Linked DNA regions of Homo sapiens: region 1 is linked to region 2. A link means that fine-mapping ties the variant in region 2 to the expression of a gene that starts in the linked region. Tissue or cell type: whole blood. Region 2 holds a variant in brackets; the other region holds the start of a gene. All regions are shown on one strand. Distances are between the middles of the regions.

Evidence for each region. PIP is the estimated chance that this variant, and not a neighbour inherited with it, causes the effect.
Region 1: it holds the start of PTPRO, and the variant in region 2 is fine-mapped to the expression of PTPRO in whole blood (TOPMed, PIP above 0.99).

Annotation. Positions count from the first base shown.
Region 1 is chr12:15,319,993-15,324,992 of GRCh38, reverse strand. PTPRO (protein tyrosine phosphatase receptor type O) reads right to left here and starts at 2,485. Exons shown (of 27, transcript NM_030667.3): 1 at 2,192-2,485. The coding sequence starts at 2,266. The region is part of intron 2 of LOC105369673 (a long non-coding RNA gene); the gene reads left to right.
Region 2 is chr12:15,572,513-15,577,780 of GRCh38, reverse strand. The region is part of intron 19 of PTPRO (protein tyrosine phosphatase receptor type O); the gene reads right to left. Among named protein-coding and RNA genes, the nearest start is that of EPS8, 210 kb to the left of the region's middle. The variant A/G (reference allele first, on the strand shown) is at 2,470.

The DNA.
Region 1 (5,000 bases), 250 kb after region 2:
CTCCAGTCACAACCTGCTTGAGTAGATCTGTTTTACTGGCACTTAATCAGGACCTTTAATTCAAAAATATCTCCAAATTATAAAGAGATTATACCATGTGCCCAACGCACCATGTAATATACTATCCTCTAAATGTAAGATATTACACTGTGTGCCCAATTTACCATTTTTTTTGAACAACTCTTGTCAACTGCAGCAAAATAGGATTAAATGAAATAACGTATGTAAAATGCCTAAAAAACCAGCACATAGAAGGTATTTAATATATACAGTTTTTTCTTCTTTCCTCTGATATAGTTTATATTCAGGTGACAAAAATATTACATTCACATAAAATAAAGGAAAATGATTTTTCTTACAAAATTATGTGTCCCACTACAATAATTATTATTTAAATGGCAAACTTTGCCAATGTATTTACTATGGAAGCAGTTTGCCATAATTTACATTTACCTGCAATGTTCAGGAATATACCTATTATGTGAAGCAGGCTGGACCTCTATGACAATCACTAACATTTTCATTACACCATCACTAACTGCATTTTCTCATTCCAATATCGAGTTTTAAGTCAAACAATGGCCACATTTATTTTATTTTAATTGCAAAACCTTACCCCCACTCCCAACCAAGTCATTCTCTTATTTCTGGAATTATCTCATTATGAAGAACTCACGCAAAAACCTGCAGTTGTGCTAAACGTTAGGTTTGGATCAGATGTCATACATATAACTCTTAGCTGTTGCTCGTAAAATGCATAGTGACTTGGTTTCTAATTTTTGGTTCATGACAATTATTGCATAGGTAAAATAGTTGTGACAGTTTGATAAATAGTTAGAAAACGACTAATAGACAACCTAATAAGTCTAATGCATTTATGATGTGTATGAAAGAACAACCTCCTACAGTAAAAACATATAACTGAGCTTATTATTTACCATACTTTAAAATTAATGATTATTGATAATTTAAGAAAAAATGTTAAAACATATTAAATATATTTTAAGGTCTTACTTAGGCATTCTGTTGCTGTTTCTCCCTGAATTTTTTTTATATTTTTCATTAAGATAAATGAAAATATGGAGTATTTAAAAGTAATGCTGTTCTTAATCCATTGGTCCTGTTCCATTATATTCTTTTTAGGCATTCATAATTAATGGTGCATATAAGCAAGAAGTGACTCTATAATAAGAAAACCTTTGGATCCATTAACCTGGCATCCATTTCTAGGGAAGGTATCACTGTGGTCCTGAAAGGATAGCTCCAAGTCACCTGTCGACATTCTTGAGTTTGCTTTGCGGAGAGAGGAAAAGACTAACAACAGAACTAAAGTAGATCCACTGAAGACATGAGTGATAGACAATCACTTCAGAACTTCACATCGCCGTCCAAGAAAACATCTAGCTGACATTTCTTCAAAAAAATTTATGTACAGTATAGTTGTCAAACTGATTTTTCAAAAGCAACTCCTTTGCTTTTCATTTTTCTCAAAGTAAAACCTCAGGGTAGCACATTCCAAAGAAGATACGAAAAAGTTTATTATTATATATTTTTCCACCATTAAATCTAGGGGTAATATCATCTGTAAATATAGTGGAGAAAGTCTGGAGACTTTTTAAAAGGAATTGTAAAGATGTTGATAGGAGTTGGGGAGAGGAATCCTTACCAAGCTCTCTACCTGACACTCCTTATTCAAAGAAAATTCTGCCCTAACGTAGCCCTGGCAGTCCATTTGTGTCCAGGGAGCTCAGTCCCCCTCCACTCTCCAGTGTATAATTCCAGCAGTAAGGAAAATTAAGACAAAGCATTCTGTGCGAGGGAGGGCGGAAAGGTTAAGCAGCGTTGGGGTGCAGTGGAAACCAGAAAAGAAAGTGACCTCATTTTGCCTGAGAAAGCACGATCCAACAAGCCCACCTTTGATGTGGATTTCAGCAGCGATAAAAGAGCACAAAGGGCGAAAGCCGGAGGGAGCAAACTTCCCTTATTCTTCCCCCCGCCCCCTACCTCTCAAGACCACCAGGAACACGCACACGCGAGGACAACAAAGCGTGCGCCCAGGCTGCACGGCAGGCGCTTCCCGCGGCTGGGCCATCGTGCCCTGGGGCGCGCCGCTCCCAACGGCAGAGCGAGGGCGCCGGAGCGCGGCTGCCGCCCGGACCGCTGGGAAAAAGGGGTGGAGGAGCTCCCCTACCTTGAACAGCACAAAGAGCCAGAGCAGAGGCAGGAGGCGGCGGGCGCCGTGTATCCCCGTGGGCAGGTGCCCCATCGCTGCGCGGACGGGGACTCGGGGGCACGGCTGCGCTAGCGGACTCCCCCGGCGGCGGCTCACAATGGCGAACTGGGGCTGCAGCCTCAGACCCTGGGCGCCGAGGTTGCTCCTGGCGAGCGCATGCTGCCTTTCCAGTCCCCCTGCGCCTGCTCCCTTTCCTCCTCTGCGCCCGGGGTCCTCCAAGAACGTGCCAGGCGCTGCTGTTCTTTAATGACTAAGGATGGAGAGGGTGGGGATTGGAGTGGGCGAGGCTCTGCCGCCGCCACCACCGCGGCTGCCAGAGGAGGCGCGGGGTCTGTGTGGTGAGCGAGAGGCGGGGACCCCGCGCCCAGCCCGCCGTAGTCCTCTGGCAGCAGGGACACTCTCACTCTGGCTGCCGACCCATAAAATGACAGCAGCCTCCCAACCCTCCACCAGGATCGGCCCGCTGCTTGCTACTGCTGGACAGCCCCCATTGCAGACTCCGCCTCAACCCCTCCCTCAATCTCTGGGTCTCAGGAGTTCTGAGGGGTTTCCCTGACCTCTCTTGAGCAATCCAGGCGCCAGATCCCAGTTCCCTCTCAATCTTCCTACATCTGTACTCAATTGCAGTTATAAAGGATCAATAACAGTTGGGTAGTTGTGACTGTAGAAATAGTGTGTAGTGTGAGTGTGTGAGTGTGTGTGATAGGAAGGGTATTTTCTCTCCTTCCCCACTGCTTCCATTATCTCCATCCCATTTCAACACTCTCACCGTCTCCGTCCCACACTCACCCAGGAACAAATAGCACAATTATGCACCTTTTCCATTTGAAATCCGCAGTTCTTGTACATTTCAGATTCTCTTTTGATACCAAAGTGTGTCGGGTCACCTGAAGCTGAATATAGAAGGGGGAAAAATCACAGTATTTTACATGTATGACCCTTGAACAACACGGGTTTGAACTGTTGGGTCCAGTTATATGCAGATTTTCTTCCACCTTTGCCAGCCTTGAGACAGCAAGACCAAACCCTCTTCCTCCTCCTCTGCCTGCTCAGCCTGAAAAGGATGACGTTAAAGACTTTTATGATAATTCACTTCCACTCAATGAATATAAATGTATTTTCTCCTCTTTATGGTTTTCTTAATAATATTTTCTGTTCTCTAGCGTACTTTATTGTAAGAATACAGTATACAATACATACAACACAAAATGTGTGTTAATCAACTGTTTATTATGTTATCAGTAAGGTTTCCGGTCAAGAGTAGGCTATTAGTAGTTAAGGTTTTGATGAGTTCAAAGTTATATGTGGATTTTCAACTACGTGATTCTCTGTGTTGTCCAAGTGTCAACGGTATGTACAGTTATATTTTTAAACAATTATCTGTGAATAATTTTACTGGGATGTTTTAGAATCACAAGCAACGACTTTCAAGCTGTGGGTCCCCAATCTACTACTTGTCTCCTTTTTTGTTATGTGTATTTTTTTAAAGATAAGTCTGTCGAAATCAACTCTGGTATGCACTGTTCAGATAGAAATCATTTCTTATTGTCATGTAAATTACCCTTGCTGTGCCCTGTCAGTATTGGAACTTATTTATACCTGAGACATGCTTGGGCAACAGGAGACAGGAAAGGCCACCCTGGTCATGAATGTAGGTGTTCAGGCATAGACTTTGTCAGTCACACAGCTAGGGAGTGGTGGCCTGAGAAAAGGATCCAGAGCTGTGTTTACTCAGCTTTTGCTGCATGAGCAATGGCCAAACACTAATCATTTGGTTGTTGTTTGTATGTGTCTTAAGGAAGCTTTAGATTGAATATGTTTACATAAGTGTGAATATGTATATATACACATGTGTACATGTACACATATGTGTACATGTACATATGTGTACACACATGTGTGTGCATGTACATATGTGTACACATATGTGTGTGCATGTACATATGTGTGTACACATATGTGTATGTGTGTACATAGATACATATGTGTATGCATACGTATATGTATATGTACGCATATGTATATGCATGGTACATATATGTATATATGTACCAAATTTCATATGCATGAAATATGTACCAAAATTCATATGCATGAAAATATAGAATGATGGTCTGAATTTTTGTGAGAATATTATCCTTGGTGTCTTCTTTTAGAAGCTTCTTTTGTTTTCACATTCCCATCACATGCTCTCTTCAGGTCCCTCATGTCCACTCATCATTGGTTTGGACATTTTCTTTCTTTTGAGAAAATGTTAACTGCTCCTCCCTCCCTCTGGGTTAGACTTACGGGCTATCTGAACATTTAATCCTTGGGATTGCACTTATAGGAACTTTGGTTTAATATGTTTTCTTTTTATTTTGACGCTCCTGAAGCAGCATTTTATTCCCACTCGCCCTCAGAAGTGGCTGTAAAGTGATCTAATCTCTAGAACATAAGATATATATAGGCCAAGGGCAACAATCACACTCACAGGATGCCAACAATTTCTCTTTGGAGTAGCATTTAATTTTAAAATGTGTCTGTGAATTATGGGTCTGTATGATGATATTCATTTGTGTGTATGCATATGTCTGTGTGTATACATGGATATAGCCTTGCCTGATGTGCGTAGGGCGTTTAAAGCAGTTCTGATCATAAATTAATCTTGTAAATGCTAAAAGAACTTTCACAATGAGGCTCCCTTTTAAATAATCATATTCTGCTGCGTCTTTCTGTTTTTCTCTTAGTCATACATCACAATTTGTTCAGCTCTTTCTGTCTTTGT
Region 2 (5,268 bases):
GGATCTAGTTATATTCCTATACAAATGTTAGAGGAATGTTAGTAAACAGTGTACATAACTGTGTATAAGTGGGATTACCCACATAGTGTGCATCTTTCTATAAGACTACTAAGCGAGGCAAAAATCACTTGTTATAAATTTTATTTACATTTATAGAATGTTAATATTGAGCACAAGTTTTACTCTTCATAATTCCTCCCAATTATTACTTCAAGGAATCAAAGCTGGAGGAATACTTCCCTAGGAGAAGAATTTCGGAGGGTCTTTTAACACTGTTGAAGAGAATTGGAGCCACTTGACCACGTTCTAGGATTGAATAGGGATATCTGTTTCATGCCCTTTGTGTCTTTATTCAAGTGCTCTTTGCAAAGCACATGCTTTATTAATCAAGTTATTGGGTCTTCTGATGCTTTTAACTAGAAGATCCTTGGTGGCAAATTACCTTGCGCTTAATGGCATTGGGTTGCCTGACTGTAGCCAACATGGATGAACCAACAAAAATTGCCCAGATTTCTCTCTTCCTTTGATTCCTCATCTCTTTTGGCTTTTCAAGATGACAATATCTGAAGTTCTTTGGACTAAGTTGATGTCAGTTTTATATACAAACTATGTTACATTTGATTTTCAACTCACAAAATTGGTTTTTTCCATCTCAGGCACTTACTTGCCAAATATATTTAGGCAGATGCTTCCCATTGTTATTTTATAACTGAGTGTTCCATTTTAAAGGGTATTCAAAGGTTGACTCTATTTTTCTTGTAAGAAGCAACTTATTTTTAGTAAATTTCAACTAAATCAGTGTGATGTTTAGGTTAGTTCCTTTTGGTAGTTATAAGTTTATTTAAATGATGCTTCCATTGCTTAAATTATTTCAGAAATCTACCTCCTTTAGAAAATGCCTGCATAGATATTTTTTCAAAATATCTCACATATTCTGACATGCCACTTATAAACTGTATGTTCTTGGAAGGGTAGTTAAACTCTTTTAAACTTTGCTTTAATTACCTGTAAGATAAGGCTAGTAATTTCTCCACACCTTCCTTTTTTATAGTGATTATCAAATGGAATAATTTAACTCAACAAATACTAATACAGCACTATTGATGATCATTGTAAAATACTTTTGTGATGATTCTTTGTTTTGCTTTGCCTGGCTCCATAATTTCTTCCTCCTCTGCCATTTATGCCAGCAGACCAACAACTCTTCCCCCAATTCTCTTGCTTTGGGGACAGACTGATAAGCCATGGGAAAAGGCCTCAGATACAAAAGGAATGGTGGAAACAGATTGAGGCTGAGCGTTTGAGCACATGTGGAAGCTGACTAACTGACAGAACTTTAATTGTGGAAGCTGACTAACTGACAGAACTTTAATTGTGTGTTGCCTTCCTGCTGTAAATACTCTAAGTTGATAAGAGAGGTTTAATTGGCTGAACACTGTAAGTGGAAGTTGCCAAAGTTGAATTGCAGCAAAGTGGGAACTGCATGTAAACACAGTATGCTTTGAAGCCTTTGTAATTTAGCCTGTCACTAAGTGGAAAATAAAATATTAAGTTTCCAGTTCAGCAGCTTTGAAGTTATTTTCTTTCCAACCATATGGAAATTCCACTGGCTTAAATCTTTATGAAGACAAACTATGGAGTGATGGACCTGAAACCCACATAAATCATTTCTGAATTTTCTTTTGTCAGTTTTGTTTCTAAATATAATTTATCACCCTTTTCTTCTAGGCTATACAGTCATCTGTAGTGGGTTGAATGGTGATCCCCAAAAAGATACGTCTACCTCCTAACCCCCAGAACCTGTGAGTGTGATCTAATTTGGAGAAAGTGTCTTTGCAGTTGTAATTAAGTTAGAGAACATGAGATGAGATCATCCTGGAGAAGAGGAAAAGGCATGTAAAGATGGAGACAGATCAGAGTTATGCAGCTGCAAGCCAAGGAATTGCTGTGGCCAACAGAAGCTGAAAGAGGCAAAGAAAAATTCTTCCCTAGAGTCTTCAGGGGGAGTGTGGCCCTGCTGACACCTTGATTTTGGAATTCTGGCTCTGCAATTGTGAGAATAAGTTTCTGTTGTTTTAAACCACGACAATTGTGGTAATTTGTTATGGCAGCCATAGGAACTAATACGGTCACCCAAACCCAGTAGCAGGCTACGTTTTGTTGGCTGTGTTTGAAGCATACAGGTCTTGGAAAGCAAAGCACAAGCATATACATTACATTAGTTGGCTTGGGCTGCCATAACAAAACACCATAGAGTGATAGTTTAAACAGTAGAGATTTATGTCTCACAGTTCTGGAGGCTGGGAAGTCCAAGATCAAGATGGCAACAAGGTAGATTTCATTCTTAGGCATCTTATCTTGGCTGATCCTGAGACAGTCAGGTGGGAGGGGGTCCTTGGAGAAATTCCAACTAGCCTGCTCACAGAGGTGGAGCCTCGGGAAGTTCACCATGTTTGCAGTGGGGAAGGA[A/G]CCTGGCCTCTCCTCTTCCTGTGTGGAACCTGAGATTCAAGCTGCCAGTGGGAAGTGCTCTAGCAGGGACTCCAGCCTAGTGAGAGTCCCTGTTTCTCCCTTTTCTTCCTTTTCACCGAATAAAACCCTGTTTTACTCACCCTCCAAATTGCCTGTGAACCTAAATTTTCATGGCTGTGGGATGGACAAGGACCTCATCTTTAGCTGAACTAAGGAAAAGTCCTGCAACAATCCTACCACGAAGTCCTCACCCTCATGAGCTTATCTAATCCTAATTACTTAGCAAGGGCTCCATCTCCAAATACCATTGCATTGGGGGTTAGGGATTAAACATAGGAATTTTGGGGGGCCACAGATATTCAGCCCATAACCTGCAATATCATCTTCTGAGGAGAGCACAATCTGCATTCTGGTCTTAGGGTTTGTAACAATGTCAGCAGGTGAGAGTTTGCTTTCGGTGTTTGCTTTGGGATAGGGTGGACATTATGTCTTGAAACCCAAGCATAACTATTACTGTTTCTGAATCGCATGATTACAAAAAATCCAACAAGTCATTTTCCAGTAAACACATTATTTTAGTTGTGAGTGACAAAAACATAGCTCAAACTAGTTTAGACTAAAGGAAAGGGGGTTTATTCAAACAATACTAAGATTACTAGATTACGTGTCCATAAGGGGTGGAAAAAGTGAGGAGAAAGAAAGTGCCAGTGGTGTTGACAGAAGAGGTTCCATCTATAGCAAGTAAAAGCTACTACCAGAAATCAAAGGTCACCTCTTGTGAACTGCATGGCCAGTTCTGTAGTTTTGTTTTGATCTTTGCAGCCACATGTCTGAACAGAGATGGTGAGGGCCTTTACTAGTATCCTGATCAAACACTAAGCACAGACATTAATAGCAGAATGAGCAATATGTGATATGTCTTCTGGGCTCTCACATTTCAGCTATAAAGTCTGGTTCTTCAAAATCTTTCCCATGTGAAATGTAAAAAATGAGGAACCTATTTTAATCCCTGGGTCCCAAGACTTTTAAAGGAACGGTGTATATTTTTATCAGAAGGATAATCAATCTTTCTAGCAGATTTAAAATCAGATTCAGAGTAAAAAAGAAATTTATTCAGTAAACACAAATTAGTAACTCATATAGCTTCATGTATGACTTATGGCTGTATTGGTAGTATCTATAAATCCAGACATTAGTTTCAATCTGCAAAATGCTTATAAATGATGTGATTTCTCAATGTGAATGTGATATTTCAATGTCAGTATCAAAATGAATACAAATACTAGGCATTAATATAAACAGAACAAGTACAAGTTCAGCTGCTGGAATTATCTAGACCAAGGTGATTTGGCCATCTCATACCCTCTTGAATTCTCATTAGAGTTAGGAACATTTTTTTCCTTAAGTCTCAATTAACTATCAATGTATTTCAAAAAAATGTGAGGGCTGCCATGTGAAAGGTCCAGCATACATCCTGAAATCAGGCATGGGAGCACACTACTTCTATGAAAATTGATGAGGAAACCCTGACGCTGACCCTGAGGATGTAGGGGGCAGAATGGGACTGAGGACTGGTAATATCTGAAGTCTGTCAAATGAAGAAGGAAGTAAATTGGACCAGCGGGCCACTGCTTGAGCAAATGTTAGTCCAAAACATACAGTCTAAGCCTGTGACTTAAAACAGAGCCCTAGAGAGTAAGTTGTATTTTCCTACCAGAATATGTAAATAATGTCAGGACTTACCACCCAATTAATTACATATATGACCAATAATGTTCTAAGAATAGAAATGTATGAAGAGAGCATCAGAATAAATAACAATATTAAAGACTTTAAAATCGTGGTGTAATGGTTAATTTTAGACGTCAACTTGACTAGGCTATAGTGTCCAGTTGCTTGGCCAAACACCAGTCTGCTGCTGTGAAGGTGTTTTTCTCATATGTGATTAACATTTACGTAAGTAGAGTTTGAGGAAGGCTGATTATGCTACGTAATGTGGCTGGGCCTCATCCAGTCAGTTTGAAGGCCTGATGAGAAGAGACAGGTCCTACAAGGAGGGAGGAATTCTGCCTCCCCATTGCCTTCAAACTCAAAACTGCAAACTCAACTTTTCCTTGGATCTCCAGCCTGCCAGCCTGCCCTTCAGGTTTCAGACTTGTCAGCCTCCATAACCTCAAAAGCCAATACCTTAAAATAGATCTCTCTATATATACATCATATTTGTTCTATATAAACATCCCATTGGTTTCTCTGGAGAACCCATGACTAATACACATGGGTTATAAAGCTTGATTGTAGCCTCATCCCATATTTAACCCATATTTCTCAATCAAACACTTTCGGCCTAGGACAATTCTCTATTGTGCGGGAATGTCCCACTCATTGAAGAGCATTTAACGCCTCGTCCCTCTTCCATAAAATACTGTTAGCATCCTCCTCCTAAGCTATTATAACAACCAAAAACACTCCCACACATTTTCAAATTTCATCTGGGGGCTGACTGGTACTTGTCCAGTTGAGAACCATTGATCTAGTTCAACTCACCCATTTTATACATAAAGAAACTAAGGTGATGAGAAAATGTACTTAAAAAAAAGCAGAACATGATTATTTTTTAAATACACAACTTCTGTACAAACTCCAAATAAAACCCCAATGTAAAAAAATGAGAAAAAAATGGTATTTCATTTTCAGCCCTTCACAAAATGTTAACCTCTTTAATCATAAATCAGCTGTTAGAAATCAGTAACAAAATGATGAAGATTATAAGGTACATGAAAATAAAAGAAACAGAGGAAA